Linked DNA regions of Homo sapiens: region 2 is linked to region 1. The links come from fine-mapping of genetic effects on gene expression. Tissue or cell type: whole blood. Region 1 holds a variant in brackets; the other region holds the start of a gene. All regions are shown on one strand. Distances are from middle to middle.

Evidence for each region. PIP is the estimated chance that this variant, and not a neighbour inherited with it, causes the effect.
Region 2: VPS36 starts here. The variant in region 1 is fine-mapped to the expression of VPS36 in whole blood (INTERVAL, PIP above 0.99).

What each region holds. Positions count from the first base shown.
Region 1 is chr13:52,476,233-52,484,408 of GRCh38, forward strand. CKAP2 (cytoskeleton associated protein 2) reads left to right here. Exons shown (of 9, transcript NM_018204.5): 9 at 1-395. LINC00345 (long intergenic non-protein coding RNA 345) reads right to left here. Exons shown (of 3, transcript NR_184203.1): 3 at 6,250-8,052. Among named protein-coding and RNA genes, the nearest start is that of CKAP2, 25 kb to the left of the region's middle. The variant G/C (reference allele first, on the strand shown) is at 4,501.
Region 2 is chr13:52,445,686-52,453,827 of GRCh38, forward strand. It overlaps VPS36 (vacuolar protein sorting 36 homolog), which reads right to left and starts at 4,949. Exons shown (of 14, transcript NM_016075.4): 1 at 4,814-4,949. The coding sequence starts at 4,909. RefSeq lists an enhancer at 4,535-5,115 and silencers at 4,636-5,095, 5,136-5,195.

The DNA of each region.
Region 1 (8,176 bases):
TTTTTATGTTCATTCCACTTTGTATATCTTTTCTATTTATTGACTTCTCATGTTCTAGAGAGTAGGACTTTTATTCCGTGTACCTGATATATATACAATTAAAATATCTGTGTAATTATGTTTTAATGAAGTTTATTTCAACAGATATTTTATGAAATGCAGTTTAACCACAGTGAATGAATTTTAGCTTTGCTTTTGAAATACATTGTAAGATTTGACTTGAGGTTTTTGACACTTAAGTACATGCTTAATGATATATTTTCAAAAGTCATCAGTCTACTTACATAAACTTTACCTAATTTTTTTCACTTTAACAAAAACATAACTATGCCCTTGTTTTTTCATACTTTGACCCAAAATATGCCATTTTGAAATAAAATTTAAGCTTTGATACACTCTCAGCTTTTTAATATCTGTACCATATAATTCATTTGTCTGTATAGCAGAGTTTGAAATGCCTCTGTTAGAGAACTCAAGATACAACTTTTATGTTTGGACAAGTTTTTAAGAGTGTTTTTTTTCCTCCTTTACCTGAGGGGAAAATCTGTCTCTAAATATTCCTAGTTCTAACATTCAACCAGAGGTCTAACCCCTTTTCTGGTGCTTAAGGACAGCTATGTTATCTCTCCCCTAGGTTTGTTCCAAGCTAAATGATGTGATACCGTGCATAAGCATCCAGTAGAGACATAACAGGGACCCCTCTTAAGGGCCCGCTTGGATCTTCCCGTGTATAGTAATAAAGGAAAAATCTTGAGTCTCTTCAAGGGAAATTCCAGGTAGCTACCTAGCTAGCCTCAAAAAAGTAAATTGAACATCCTGGAATAAGGAAAAAAATGTTTCGTTTCCTATAGTAATGAAAGAACATCTTGACGCTGAATTTTTTGGAAACCCAGATCCATACCAGATAAAAATGCCAACCACTGTCAAGTGGACCTCAGGTAAGGGGAAACAGGACTGAACTCTAAACCACCATTCTTGTCCGTCTCGGCCTCCCGAAGTGCTGGGATTACAGGCGTGAGCCACCGCACCCGGCCACAGGACTGTTGGTAACACTAAATGAGACAGTGTAAGTAAAGGGCCCCATGAGTGGCCCACCATCCTCTGAGCTTCCAATGCTATGTGGCCAACATTTTGTTTATTCCTAGATTCAACTTCCCTTTGCATTGTGACATTAGCTTTTTTGATAAATTCTACATATGTGTTTGTTTATTGTCTGTATCCCAACCAGTCAAAACCACCATGATATGCCTGTACTTGCTCTATTGAGAATAGATGTTCTTTCTTTCCAATTTATAGCAAAGATGGAGTCAGTGTAGGGGGTGAGTTGGTAACACCTGTTTCACAACTCTAGGGAGCAATATTCTCACGGACAAGAGTGAAAGATGGCCTCTGAGAGACTGTGCAACTTCACATCCTGGCTTTGTATCCTCCAACCTACACACCTATCTGTTTCTAAGCCTTTTTTTCCTACTTTTTCTTTACCTCTTCTACCTGTGCTTAGGAACTCATGCTTTCCCTTTAGCATCAAGCTTCTTGGAGAAGGAGAAGTTATCTACTCCATTGCTCCTCTTTTATTAGCAATTTTCTTCCTCTTTTCCATTCACTCTTCAATTAATTGCAGTCTAGCTTTTGCTTTCCCTAGATTGAAACACATTCCAGAAAAATCAGTTTAATTACATGGCCTTTGCACTTGCTCACTGAAACCTTTTATCACTCTATTACATTAGATTCATACCTCTCCCAACCCTAATTCCATATCCTCCTTACCTGATTTATTTTTCCTCAGAGCACTTATTCAATTAAATATTCACGTATTTATTTGCTCATTGTCTGTGTTCCCGACTAGAATCTAATCCTAGAGGGCAGGGATTTTCATTCCTTTTTCTTTTTTTGATATGCAATCTTGCTCTGTGGCCCAGGTTGGAGTGCAGTGGCATGATCTCGGCTCACTGCAAGCTCTGCCTCCCGGGTTCACGCCATTCTCCTGCCTCAGCCTCCTGAGTAGCTGGGACTACAGGCACCCACCACCATACCCGGCTAATTTTGGGTATTTTTAGCAGAGACGTGGTTTCACCGTGTTATCCAGGATGGTCTCGATCTCTTGAACTCATGATCTGCCCGCCTCGGTCTCCCAAAGTGCTGAGATTACAGGCGTGAGCCACCGCGCCCGGCCAGGATTTTTATTTTCTATTTTGTTCACTGCTTTATCCCCAGTGCCTTGAATAGGAGATGCACCTAATGGGTGCTTCATGCATATTCACTGACTTGGACAAATAAATGCATTTTCTTATCTCCAGATTCATTGTGTCCTTTTCCATGTCCTCCTTGACTTCTCAGGGACACTTGACACTTGCTTCTGTGAACTTCCATGACCACACTCTCTCTTGGGTTCCTCCTGTTTTCATACCACTTTCTTATTTCCCTTTGCCAGCTTCTTTTCTTCTTACTCTTAAATATTGGCCATTCTGGTGTTGTCCTTGTTATCTTTCTCTTCCTACTCTATGCTTTTCCAGACAAGCTTATCTACACTTGGGGATTCGAATACCATCCACAAGATGAGAATTCTCAAGCATATATTTCCAGCTCTTGACTTTGCTCCTTCCATCATTGAAATGGCCCTCCCATGTTGAATCCCAACACACTTTTTTCCTCCCCAAACTGCTCTGTATTTAGGTTAAGCACCAACACACAACTGATTCCCCAAGTCAGAAACTTAAGAGTCACCTTGAACTTCTTCCTTTCACCAGCACTCTGAAGCAGTAGGACATCAAACTGTCCGTGTTATCCTGGCTCGCTCTATACCCATTGCACCGCCTTATCATTTCTTGCTTGTCCTGTTTCATTAATTTTCTAAAATTCCCTTGCCTCCTTGTCTTGCCTTCCTCTAATTCATCCCACACGTGGCAGCCAGAGCGTTCATTTAAAAATGCCAACCTGTTCATGCTTCTCCCCTTAAAGAGTCCCCATTTTTGTGATTCTCAGCTGTCTGCAGAAATCATCCAAACTTCTTGGCACAGTATGGAAGGCCCTTCAAGATCTGTCACATCTTTTACCCTGACACAAATATTCTGCATATGGTATGGACTACTTATAATTCTTTAAAGAAGCCACACTCGTTCTTATCTCCTCTGTACATGCTGTTCCCAGTGTACTTTGTACATGCTGTTCCCAATGCAGAGATGCTGTTCCATGCTTTGTCTATCTGGTGAGCTCCTACTCAGGTCTTCCCTGATATCCCCAGGCAGAAACAGAAGCTTCCTCTGTGTCCTCTCCTACAAGTACCTCATTACAGCACTGATTGCATTTGCAGGAATTGGTTTTCACATGTCTCTCTTCCTCAAGCATCTGTGAGCCCCAGGAGGGAATAAACTTCATTCTAACCATCTTCTTGAACTTTTTTCTTGGCACAGAATTTTTATTCTGGTTTATTAAGTTGAACAATAAAAATACTACTCTTCATCATTACCTCACATTTAACATGAAATTCTCATTTAACATGTTCCTAAGACACTTTCTCGGTGGCCCAGGATTGGGCGGTTGCTATTCAGTGCAGAAAGGGAGATGCCATCTAAGTGTGGTGGCAGAGTGTAGCTTGTCACCCACCAAGAAGCCCGAGTTATTGTCTCTTGGCCTCTATGGACTTTATGAGGCGTTTAATCCTTCAGGCTTCAGTTTCCTTAACTAAAATGAGGAGAGGAATAACCTGAGTTCTGAGATTAAACAGAAAAGTGGAACTAAAGTATCAGCCATACTCTGCTTTGGCAACCAATTTATAAACTTTACCATCCTAAAATAAGCTCTGTGTTTTTTGTGCAATTATAATTTTGTATATTCATTTAATGTGTACCGGAGTTGTAGGCAGTCATTTTATTATTTTTATTTTTATATTTTTTAGAGACACGGTCTCATTCTGTCATCCATCCTGGAATGTAGTGGCTTGACCGTAACTCACTGCAACCTTGAACTACTGGGCTGACAGTCCTCCTGCCTCAGCCCCCTGACTGCAGGCATGCGCCACCATGTCTGGGTAATTTTTAAATGTTTAGTAGCATTGAAATCTCACTATGTTGTCTGGGCTGGTGACAAACTCCTGGGCTCAAGCAATCCTCCTGCCTCAGCCTCCCAAAGTTCTGGGATTATAGGCGTGAGCCACCACGTCCAGCCCTAAGTGGTCATTTTAGGTCATAAACTCCATAAGGGCCAAAGGCCTTTTGACTCTCCACATATGGTTGAGTAGAGTACCTGCACTCCACATATATCGGCTGAACTGACTTGTATAGTGTTCAGAATAACTTTATAGCAATTTCAGAAATACAAGATGAGAAGCAGATTTGCTGTGATTTTAGTTATAAATAACAAGGAAAAAATGTTTTGCTCCTGGTAAATGAAAGGCACCAGTTTATCCAAAGGACTAAGAAAGGAAACTGACGCCTTGATTTGCTAAATCCAAATCCTTTTGGTACAACAGGGGTGGACAAATGGAAAAACCTGCCCTAGATG[G/C]CTTTGTGATATTTCGTTATGCTCAGAGTAGGTGCTCTATAAATACCTGTTGGATGAATGTTGCATGACTGCAGTTCCTCTATAGCTTTAATGAGTTCCTAAGAGCAGCTAGCCATATCCCTTAATAGTACCTTTCTGCTGACAGCAGCAAGCTATGTATGGTGTTAGTACGGTTGCTAGATGATGAAGCAGGAGAGAGGTCAATTCTGAATAAACATCTAGGAATTTAGTAAGAGAAGTTGAGCAAAGAGCTGTATAAAACAGCTCTGGATTCCAGTTAATGTAAACTTCATTCAGTTAGGTATACTAACTTTTTAAAAAACAAAGGCTGATGTCTGGTTACCTGAGCACTGACTCAGGCCCACACGTGAATTTTGGACAAAACATTTTAATTTGAATTCTTTTTTGACGGGGCTGATGCAATCCAGTTTTCCAGAGTTTCTAACACTCCCTATTATCTTGCTTTACTCATTTACATAACCTGTGAATCTCCTGAAACTTCTTCCTGGCTTAGAGGAAACTGAAACTAGAAAGAGAAACCTTTGGATGGCAAACTGGTCTAAAGTTACAATTTAGTCTTCAAAATTGGTTTAACCAAGCTTTCAGAGCGGATGGGCATGTTTCTTTATCTAATTTGTCTTACAGTTTTGTTTACTGCGACGATCTGTGAAAGACTTAAAAAAGAAGGGCTCATGATGAGTAATTGTCCAGGGCCCCTTACACATAGGCGTATTTTCATTAATTAAGAATTGTTGGCCGGGCACGGTGGCTCACGCTTGTAATCTAGCACTTTAGGAGGCCGAGGCAGGCGGATCACGAGGTCGGAAGATCGAGACCATCCTGGCTAACATGGTGAAACCCCGTCTCTGCTAAAAAATACAAAAAAAAAAAAAAAAATTAGCCGAGCGTGGTGGCGGGCACCCGTAGTCCCAGCTACTGGGGAGCCTGAGGTAGGAGAATGGCGTGAACCCAGGAGGCGGAGTTTGCAGTGAGCAGAGATCGCGCCACTGTACTCTAGCCTGGGAGACAGAGCGAGACTCCGTCTCAAAAAAAAAAAAAAAAAAAAAAAAAAAAAAATATATATATATATATATATATATATATATATATATATATATATATATGTGGGCGAATAAATGAAAAAATCTACTCAGTACACTGATGAAATATTAACTAGTAAACTACTCACCATCAATCCCAGCAAACGTTTCTCCCTGGGGCCAACAATTTATTACATGGAAGATCGTCTCCCTTAAGAAGATGTCTTACAGGCTGTAGTTTCTCTTCTATAAATAAATTATGTTTTTCAAAATATCAAGAGCTATGCTTCATTTTTGAAGAAATTTGTAGTTCTTGGGCCTCATATCTCTATCTAGCGAAGCAAATTGGTAATACACCAATTAAGATACCCGGGTATGAATATAAGAAACACAGTTGTGAAAAAATTATTTATAGAAAATTACCCTTCCTTTTCCAAGGTTCAAAAACCTTGAATTGTATCTACTTTATATTTTCTGGAGTTCAGCAAGTTCTTTCTTTTCCGGATAGCCTATTTCTAAATATCTGGACAGTGTCATGCTATTGGAAAATATATGGGTGTATATAAAACTTATGATTAGCTTGTTTTTCACCACTTTTAAATCAAAGAACCGTTGATATTTGTTAACACGAATGTTATTTAGATATGTTATAGTATAATGTGAATAAAATTTTTGTAAATTATGCTAACAATCCTACCAATTTAACAAATATTTATAAAGGGTTTTTTATTTTTGTTTTTTGTTTTGTTTTGAGATGAAGTCTTGCTCTGTCACCCAGGCTGGAGTGCAATGGCGCCATCTTGGCTCACTGCAACCTCCACCTCCCAGGTTCAAGTGATTCTCCTGCCTCAGCCTCCTGAGTAGCTGGGATTACAGGTGCCCCCCACCGCACTTGGCTAATTTTTGTATTTTTAGTAGAGATGGGGTTTCACCATGTTGGTCAGGCTGGTCTCAAACTCCTGACCTCGTGAACAATCCACCTTGGTCTCCTAATGTGCTGGGATTACAGGGGTGAGCTCCCACGTCCGGCCTCATTTTTGTTTTTGTTTCCTTCAACTTTTATTTTAAGTTCTGGAGTACATGTGCAGGATGTGCAGTTTTGTTACATTGGTAAATGTGTGCCATGGTGGTTTGCTGCACAGATCAACCCATCACCTTGGTATTAAGCCCAGCATCCATTATCTGTTCTTCCTGATGCTCTCCCTCCCCCCATCAGGCCCTCCCCGCAACAGGCCTCAGTGTGTTTTCTTCCCTGCCATGTGTCCATGTGATCTCATCATTCAGCGCCCACTTATAAGTGAGAACATGTGTTGTTTTGTTTTCTGTTCCTCTATTAGTTTGCTGAAGATAACAGCTTCCAGCTCCATCTGTGTCCCTACAAAGGACATGATCTCCTTCCCTTTTATGGCTGCATAGTATTCCATGGTGTATGTGTACCACATTGTCTTTATCCAGTTTATCATTCATAGGCATTTGGGTTGATTCCATGTCTTTGCTATTGTGAATAGTGTTGCAATAAACATACAGGTGCATGTATATTTATAACAGAATGATTTATATTCCTTTGGGTATATATCCAGTAATGGGATTGCTGCGTCAAATGCTATTCCTGCCTTTAGATCTTTGAGGAATTGCCATACTGTCTTCCACAAGGGTTGAACTAATTTACATTCCCATCGACAGTGTAAAAGCTTTCCTTTTTCTCTGCAACCTTGCCAGTATCTGTTGTTTCTGGACTTCTTAATAATTGCCATTCTGACTGGCATGAGATGATATCTCATTGTGGTTTTGATTTGCCTTTCTCTAAAGATCAGTGATGTTAAGCTTTTTTTTTCCATATGTTTGTTGGCCACATGAATGCCTTCTTTTGAGAAGTGTGTGTTTATGTTCTTTGCCTACTTTTTAATGGGGTTGTTTTTTTTCTTGTAAATTTGTTTAAGTTCCTTATAGATTCTGGATATTAGGCCTTTGTCAGACAGACAGATTGCAAAAATTTTCTCCCATTCTGTATGCTGTCTGTTCACTCCGATGATAGTTTCTTTTGCTATGCAGAAGCTCTTAGGTTCAATTAGATCCCATTTATCAATTTTTGCTTTGGTTGCAATTGCTTTTGGTGTTTTTGTCATGAAATCCTTACCCGTGCCTATGTTCTAAACGGTATTGCCTCAGCAATACTCAGCCTCAGCCCAGTTCTGTGCCCTTGCTGGAGAGGTGTTGCGTTCATTTGGAGGAGAAGAGACACTCTGGCTGTTGTGTGGTCTCCCTGATGTCCTGGAATGTCCTAGCCAATTGAGTGATGGTTTTTCTCTCCAGTGCATCCTCCCTGACCAGCCAGCTCTTCCTTCCCCAGCTCTTGCCCTGCAGTGACTCTGAAAGCTTGTTGTTCCATTTACTGCTTGCACTCACTTTATTTCACAGAGTAAAAGGTGCTTTGCAAACATAAGTTTATGTTGTTTGTCTTCAGCTCCCCCTGTATTCTCTCACCATGTCATTGGCGTGGAGAAGCAGGAACCTAAACATGGGAAGTGAACATCAAAATATGTCATGATCACAGTGTGCTTCAAGGTAAATACCACTTCAGCACGATATCCATTTGTATAAAGCTTAAAAATAACTGTCACAAAGTAATATATTTT
Region 2 (8,142 bases), 31 kb before region 1:
CCAGCACTTTGGGAGGCCTAGGCGGGCGGATCACGAGGTCAGGAGATCAAGACCATCCTGACTAACACGGTGAAACCCCGTCTCTACTAAAAATACAAAAAAAAAATAGCCGGGTGTGGTAGCGGGTGCCTGTAGTCCCAGCTACTTGGGAGGCGGAGGCAGGAGAATGGCGTGAACCCGGGAGGCGGAGCTTGCAGTGAGCGGAGATCGCGCCACTGCACTCCAGCCTGGGCGACAGAGAAAGACTCTATCTCAAAAAAAAAAAAAAAAAAAAAAAAAAAAAGGCCGGGCACCTTGGCTCACGCCTGTAATCCCAGCACTTTGGGAGGCCGAGGCAGGCAGATCAAGAGGTCAGGAGTTCAAGACCAGCCTGACCAACATGGTGAAACCCCGTCTCTACTAAAAATAAAAAATAAAAAATAAAAAAAAAAATTGCCGGGCGTGGTGGCGGGCGCCTGTAATCCCAGCTACTGGGGAGGCTGAGGTAGGAGAAACGCTTGAACCCGGGAAGCAGAGGTTGCGGTGAGCCAAGATCGCACCACCGCACTCCAGACTGAGCAACAGAGCGAGATTCCGTCTGAAAAAAAAAAAAAAAAGTACATAATGCTGCATTATAGAACATATAGTTCTGATTAAGAAACTTCGTATGTTATCTTACTGAAATCCAAGCACATACATGTTAATTTAAGGCTGGAGCCAGCCTATGTTCCACTGCTACCTCAATTAACAATGTGCAAATGTAAAATGTTGCTGCTCTAAGTGAAGAAATTGTGTAACAGTTCCCTTTCAGGATTCCAGTGGATTAAGATCTAAACCTGATAGTCAAGTTTAGGCTGGTTTGCTTACACCACTCAGAACCTAGAATAATTTTAACTGCTTAAAAATTGATCTAACTTCAGCACTCACTGAAAAGTTCTTAACCTGCTTTTTTTTTTAATTTACATTTTTTCTGTTATAAAAGTCATACATGTTCAGTGTTGAAAATCTCGAAAATATTTAGAGCCTGAAAAAGAAAATGAAATAATAACTCATACCAGCCAGAGTGTGTATGTATATATACACAGATGTTTATGTATACATATATAACCTTTAAATAGAATGATAGGTTTATAACTATTATTAATAGTATAGTTAGAAAATATAGTTAGCAGCCTATCATTGGCAATTCCTCATGCTAATTAGGGCATGCCATAATTTTTTTTTTTTTTTTTGAGATGGAGTTTCTTGTTGCCCAGGCTGGAGTGCGATGGTGCGATCTGGGCTCACAGCAACCTCTGCCATCCGGGTTCAAGCCATTCTCCTGCCTCAGCCTCCCAAGTAGCTGGGATTACAGGCACCCGCCACCACGCCCAGCTAATTTTTTGTATTTTTAGTAGAGACGGGGTTTTACCATGTTGGCCAGGCTGGTCTTAAACTCCTGACCTCAGAGGATCTACCCGCCTCAGCCTCTCAAAGTGCTGGGATTACAGGCATGAGCCACCACGCCTGGCCCCATGCCATAATTTAATTAACCAATCCCTATGGTGGACATTCAGATTGCTTCCAATTTTTCCATATATAATAATATTATATGTAATACATAATAATGCTGAGATGAGCATTCTCATATGTAATATTTTTATGCATTTCTGATTATTTCCCAAGGGTAAATTCCTAAAAGTGAGTTAGCTGAAAAAGAATAAACAATTTTCTAAATCTTCTGATATATGCTGCCAACTTGCCACTTTACACATTACTAACCTTACATTATTTTTTAAATTGGCTGAGGCTACAGAAGTGTCTGTGAAGTCAAACAAATGACCTGTCTACACTGCTTATGAAAGTAACACATTATCTAGTCATAATGAGCCCATGAAAACTGTGCCTGTATAAACAAGCGAGTCTGCATGTATTCATAAGAGGCACTTGGGCGTGGGAAGAGCAGTCCATTGGATCTGGTTTGCAATTCTAGCTCTACCAGTTACTAGTTGTGTGACCTTAGACAGCTCACAGTTTTCTCAGCTATCACCTGTGGGGTCTCAGTTCCCCATCTTTGGGAAGATTAGCTGTATTAAACATTATATCAAGGGTGACACCGGTGACTGCTACATTATGAAGTCATTTTTTTTTTTTTTTGAGACAGAATCTCGCTCTGTTGCCTAGGCTGGAGTGCAGTGGCACAATCTCGGCTCACTGTAGCTCCATGAACAAAGCACAGGCTTTGAGTCTGATCAACAGAGATTTAAATCTTCTCTCTGTGGATCTTAGGCAAGTCACTGTATCTCTTGGCGTTACTTTCTCATTCAGTAAAATACCTCATATTCTGATGAGAGGATTAAATGAGATGATATATACAGCTCTTGGCTCATAGTACTTTAATTATTCGGGTTTAAAAAAAATGTGTTTCACACCCACAACCAGCTAGGAGATACAAGGATGAGCAAGGCACACCTTCTGTGCTCCAGAAACATCAGACTAGTCTAGAAGACAGCCATGCACATGCTTGCCCAGGGAATGGGTTGGGATGCAAAACTATGAATATTAAGCAATCTGGACTGCAGTCCCTAGGCCAAAGGAGCCAGTGAGGCATCCTAAAAGGGAGACTAATTTCACCAGATTTGGGGGCTAATGTGTGTAACCTTGTAAAGTCTCTAGCACCACAGGAGGTCTGGAAACCTTCCAAAAGATGAAGGAAGCCAGGATACCGCACCTTCCCCCAGGAGTCAGCCTGTGCCCCATTCAGCCTAGGGACCGCATAGCTGCAAGGCAGCTCAGCAAGTCACTAAGTCCAGCTTTGGGGCACAGTGGTAAGGAGACTCCTCTTAGAGCTCCACTCCAATTTCAAGCTTTTAGAAGAGTTAATTCTGGACTAGATCACAGGGTCTAAAGCAATGTTTTCCCCATGATTTGTTTCTTAAACCTCTGACATCTATATACTTGTCTGCTAATACAAGCAGCAAAAATTTTAAAGTAAAAATTAAAACTTGCTGCTTCAACAATGTATCTTTCATATAAAACTACTAATGGTTGTTATTTTACACTGTTTTAAATCTATCACAGCTATACTGCCTGCCAGCAAAGGTGTTCCTAGTCTTCAAATTGGAGTTCCATAGAACAGTATCATGCCATGCTCTGCAAAAGCATGACTTCCTAGTGCTCCCTCAGGGAGTGGCACTGGAGGAGTCTCTGAGGACAGATCTAACACTGTCAACATTCGGTTCCTCTCAAAGGGGAGGCAAAATCAAAACACCGAGGAAGGGGAGGTGGATTAACCTTCCCATTTTAAATAGTCACAAAGATGTAAATTGGTAAGAAAGGAGAAAAAAATAGCTTGTCACTCCAATCCGGGGATGGAAGACTCATCTTGAGATCAAGATAGTTAAAGTGCCAAGGCAGGCTGGGCACAGTGGCTCAAGAGCCTGTAATCCCAGCTGTTTGGGAGGCCCAGGCGGGCGGATCATTTGAGGTCAGGAGTTAGAGACCAGCCTGGCCAATGTGGTGAAACCCCGTCTCTACTAAATATGCAAAAATTAGCCGGGCATGGTTGCAGGCGCCTGTAATCCCAGTTACTCAGGAGGCTGAGGCAGGATCTTGAATCTGGGAGGCGGAGGTTGCAGTGAGCCCAGATCGCGCCACTGCACTCCAGCCTGGCGATAGAGCGAGACTCTGTCTCAAAATAAATAAATTAATTAATTAAATTAAGAAGTGCTAAGGCAGTAAGTGAAGTTAGGTCCAAGCAAATTATTTAAGGAAAAGACCTTTACTCACTAATACAGGCAACACAGCCCATAGAAAATGCCCTAAGAGAGTCAGAGGACCTGGGTCCAATGTCACCTGTGCCTCTAAATAGCTGTAAGCACTTACCAGGAAAAGCTGAGTTGAGGAACTTATATCAAAGTACAGCGGAAAGTGTCGTTAATAAAACGGCAAGGGAAGAGAGGTAGCAAATTAAAACTTCTGGAAACCAAAAATGCTTGTGGGTAAATGAGTTTTAAAATTTTTCTAATTCCAGTTTATCCATTTCAATCCAGGACAAGATATTTCATAGTTTCAGTAAAGTATCTACAAAATATTTACTTACACTTCCTATTTCTCCTCTCGATTTGCAAACGCACCTTCTAAGATTTATGCTTGCACTACAAGGCACGGTCTACTATTAATATAACACTTTACAAAACACGCTCAGAACGCCTTTCTAAAGCAATTAGAAAACAAAACAAAAACCCAATAGCCTTTGGCAAGGGCATTCCAATGAAGCACTGATACCTCTTTAGGAAATCCTTTCGAAGCAATCCCTCACCCCTCTGCCCAGATATGCTAATCCCTCCGACTGCATAAGGTCCAAGCTAAAGCTTCCGCTGGGGCACGGACTGTACGGCCACCGCGCCCTCCTCACAGAAAGGCGAAACGGGGCTGTCCGGTGCCGACGCCGAGGTTGGTGTCGTCAGGGGGTCTGGAACCACGCCAAGGAAGTCGACTGCCGGATCGCCGCCCGGCGCCCGCAGACGGCGAGCGCTCCTTCTCCCGGGCACTGCAGCTGTGCGCTCCCGGAAGCATTCCGGGCGGAGGGAAGCGGCCGCGATCCGCGCCTGCTGGGAACCGTGCCAAAGTTGGGACCCGCGCTGGGGAGGCAGCCGAGCGCCCCACGCCACGTGCTACCGACCGGCGGGGAGCGCAAGAGCGCTGCACCCCGCACAGAGGCCTGCCGGGCCGCCGAGGGCCGTGAGCTAAGCCGGGGACCGGGCCGCGCCGACCCGGGCCGCGCTGAGCCGGGCCGCGCGCCCACCGGGGGTCCCTTCCGCCAGCCCGTTGGGAAGGTTGGCAGACGCCCTACCTTCTCCTCGCCATCGTAGATTCGCACCCCGCGCTGCTGGATCACCAGGGTCTCGTTGATCTCCAGGAGGCCGCTGGTCCAAACGAAGCGGTCCATGGCCGCTGCCACCCAGCCCCGGCCCTCCGAGGCCGCGAGCAGCGCGCCAGGCAGCCTGCGGCGCCCCCTAGCGTCGGACGGGACGGAAGCGAGTCGGGGCGGGTGAGGGACGGAGGGAGCGGCCTGGCAGCGAGCGGGCGCGGCTGCGAGGTGCGCCCGGGGACGTGGAGACGTGCGTGGAGCGCCCCCTGGCGGTCCATTAGCCGCCGGCCTTTCAGAACCCTTGATCAGCAGGCGGTCCACCCCATTCTAAATTCAGAGCTTACAGGGACGCGAGGGAGCCCCGACCACAGCTTGGACTTGCTTATTGTGCATTATGCCTGCATGTTTGTGGCAGTTTTCTTGTCAGTGCCCAGAATGTTGCTACATTCGCTAATGATTGTAAATAATCATAACCCCTCTCTTTCAAATGAATATTTATGGCACGCATTGTTTCTGTACAGCTGCAGTCAGTACTACCTGTGCTGCTCTTTTTTTCCCTTTAAGATTATATTGTAACACAAAGGATAAATGCTTGAGGTAACGGATACCTCATTTACCCTGATGTGATTATTATACAGTGTATGCCTGTATCAAAATATCCCATATACCCCAGAAATATATACACCTATGTACCCACACAAATTAATTTTTTTTTAACTGGGGGAAACAGATTTTATTTAACCGGGCTTGATGCGCGCGCCTGTATTCCCAGCTGCTTCCGAAGCTGAGGCGGGAGGATTGCTTGAACCCAGGAGTTTGACACCAGTGGGCGACATAGAAAGACCCTTTCCCCCTCCACCCCAACTCCCCCACGCCACTCCACTCCCCCACCCCCAGGCTCAGAAAAAAAAGATTATTTTTATTTAGGCATTTTCAATATTAATACAGACCTCATGCGTGAATTTACATTTCAATATGTAGTTCCTCTATAATTTAGCTGTTTGTTGGTCTGCGCAAAGCCATCCATGGCCGCTGCTCTCACCCACCAGGCGGCCTCGTGCCCCTAGCCATTTCATTTTTGTATTTTGCTTTATAAATGGAACACCTGGCCGGGCGCGGTGGCTCACGTTTGTAATCCCAGCACTTTGGGAGGACAAGGCGGGCGGATCACAAGTCAGGAGTTCGAGACCAGCCTGGCTAACATAGAGAAACCCTGTCTCTACTAAAAATACAAAAAATTAGCCCGGCGTGGTGGCGGGTGCCTGTAATCCCAGCTACTCGGGAAGCTGAGGCAAGAGAATCGCTTGAACCCTGGAGGTAGAGGTTGCAGTGAGCCGAGATCGCACCATTGCACTCCAGTCTGAGCGACAGAACGAGACTCTGCTTCAAAAATAATAATAATAAATAATAAATAAATAAATAAATGGAGCAGCTTATAGATGTCCTTCTACAATTGATACATATTTTTCTCTTTAGGATTATTTTCTTACAGTGTCTTCCTAAAATAGAATGACTGCTTTAAAGGTTGTGAACACATTTTAGAGAGCCTACCACTTATTGGGGTCTTAACTAAGGCTGCGTGCCCACGTGGGCAGAGGGGCACAGGGGCAGAGGGACAGAGGGCAGGCTTGCTCTCTGCCCCCAGGGCTCCACATTTCCCCCAGTCGTGGAGTCAGTGGTCTGTGGCTAGGCATTAAAAGAAAGGAAAGGCTCTTTCCAATGAGTATAAGCCATCTCTCCCCCGAAATGAATTGCTACTTTTACCGTGTTCCAAAATCCTGTGTGTATTTTGGTCTATTTCTAAACAGTGTCTTCTGTATTTCATATCTTTCAATTTCCATCATGACCATATACCCAATAACCAAAAGTTCTTTGAAAACATTTGATTTGCTGTAATATGCTATCAATATATATCACAATTTACCATCATTGCCTGATTTTTGAGCATTTGATTGTTTACCAACTTTTTAGTCTTTTTTAATTGAAAGTAATGTGACCTAAGCATCCTAATCAGATGTGGAACTGTGCAGTTATGCCTGGGCTTTGCAATTATCAACATGTTAGGCAGTGAGGACATTTGCAAGGTATGTTTTCTGCCCTTGAGGGATGTACAGTCTGTAGGACACAAATAGAAGCCTGGCATATGATAGCTGCTGGGATAGACAACCGTATAAGGGTTTCCTGTATCCAGGCTGGAGCAAGGAGAAACGTCATGTGGCTTATATATGGCAATAAATGAATAGACAAAAGGTTTTAATTTTTATGAAGTTCAGTGTATTTTTTTCTTTCATAGTTCATGGAATTTGCCTATTTAAGAAATCTTTTTTCCACAAACCAGATATTGATACTGATTATGAAATCTTTGCCTAACACAAAGTCACTAAGATTTTCTCCTATAATTTCTTCTAGAAGCTTCATAGTTTTGGTTCTTACATTTAGGTCTATGCTTTTTTTTTTTGAGACAGAGTCTCACTCTGCCGCCCAGGCTGGAGTGCAATGGCACAATCTCGGCTCACTGCAACCACTGACTCCTGGGTTCAAGCGATTCTCCTGCCTCAGCCTCCCGAGTAGCTGGGATTACAGGTGCCTGCCACCACGCCTGGCTAACTTTTGTATATTTTGTAGAGACAGGGTTTCACCATGTTGGCAAAGCTGGTCTTGAACTCCTGACCTCAGGTGATCCACCCGCCTTGGCCTCCCAAAGTGCTGGGATTACGGGCATGAGCCACCACGCCCAGCCATCCCCAGGATGTTTTTGCCAGGACCTCCCACCTTCTGAATCAGATGGTTCCTTTCAGTCCCAATCCTACTGGACCTCTGTAGTGCCCAACACTGTGGTCCATTACCTCTTTCTTCAGCTTCTCTCTTCCCCAGACTTTGTGACCCCATTGTGTCCCCATTGTCCTCCTAACTTTCAGATTGTCCTTCCCTGTTCTCTCACAGGCACTTTACCTTCTTCACATGACCACAGGAGGAACGACTAACACTAATTAATCATCAGTACTCCAGGTGCCTGCAGTTTCATGGTCAGCTGTGTTGGCAAAGAACTGTTCTGAAAGGAAATCTTTTTTGTTTTGTTTTTTTTGTTTGTTTTTTGGATCTTTTAGAAAAAGGTCTGCTTTCTCTGCAATAATTGTGTAGCAGTAATATTAAAAAGTGTCTCAAAAATAGACATATCATTGGAGTGGGTGAGTCTGGAGATTAGAGGAGAATTGCCATTTTGAAAAACCTAGCAGTTTGGCAGGTTTTCCTATTCATCTCAGCCTACTGAGATCTCCATGGTATCCTTTGAGTCAATTTCTTTTTTTACC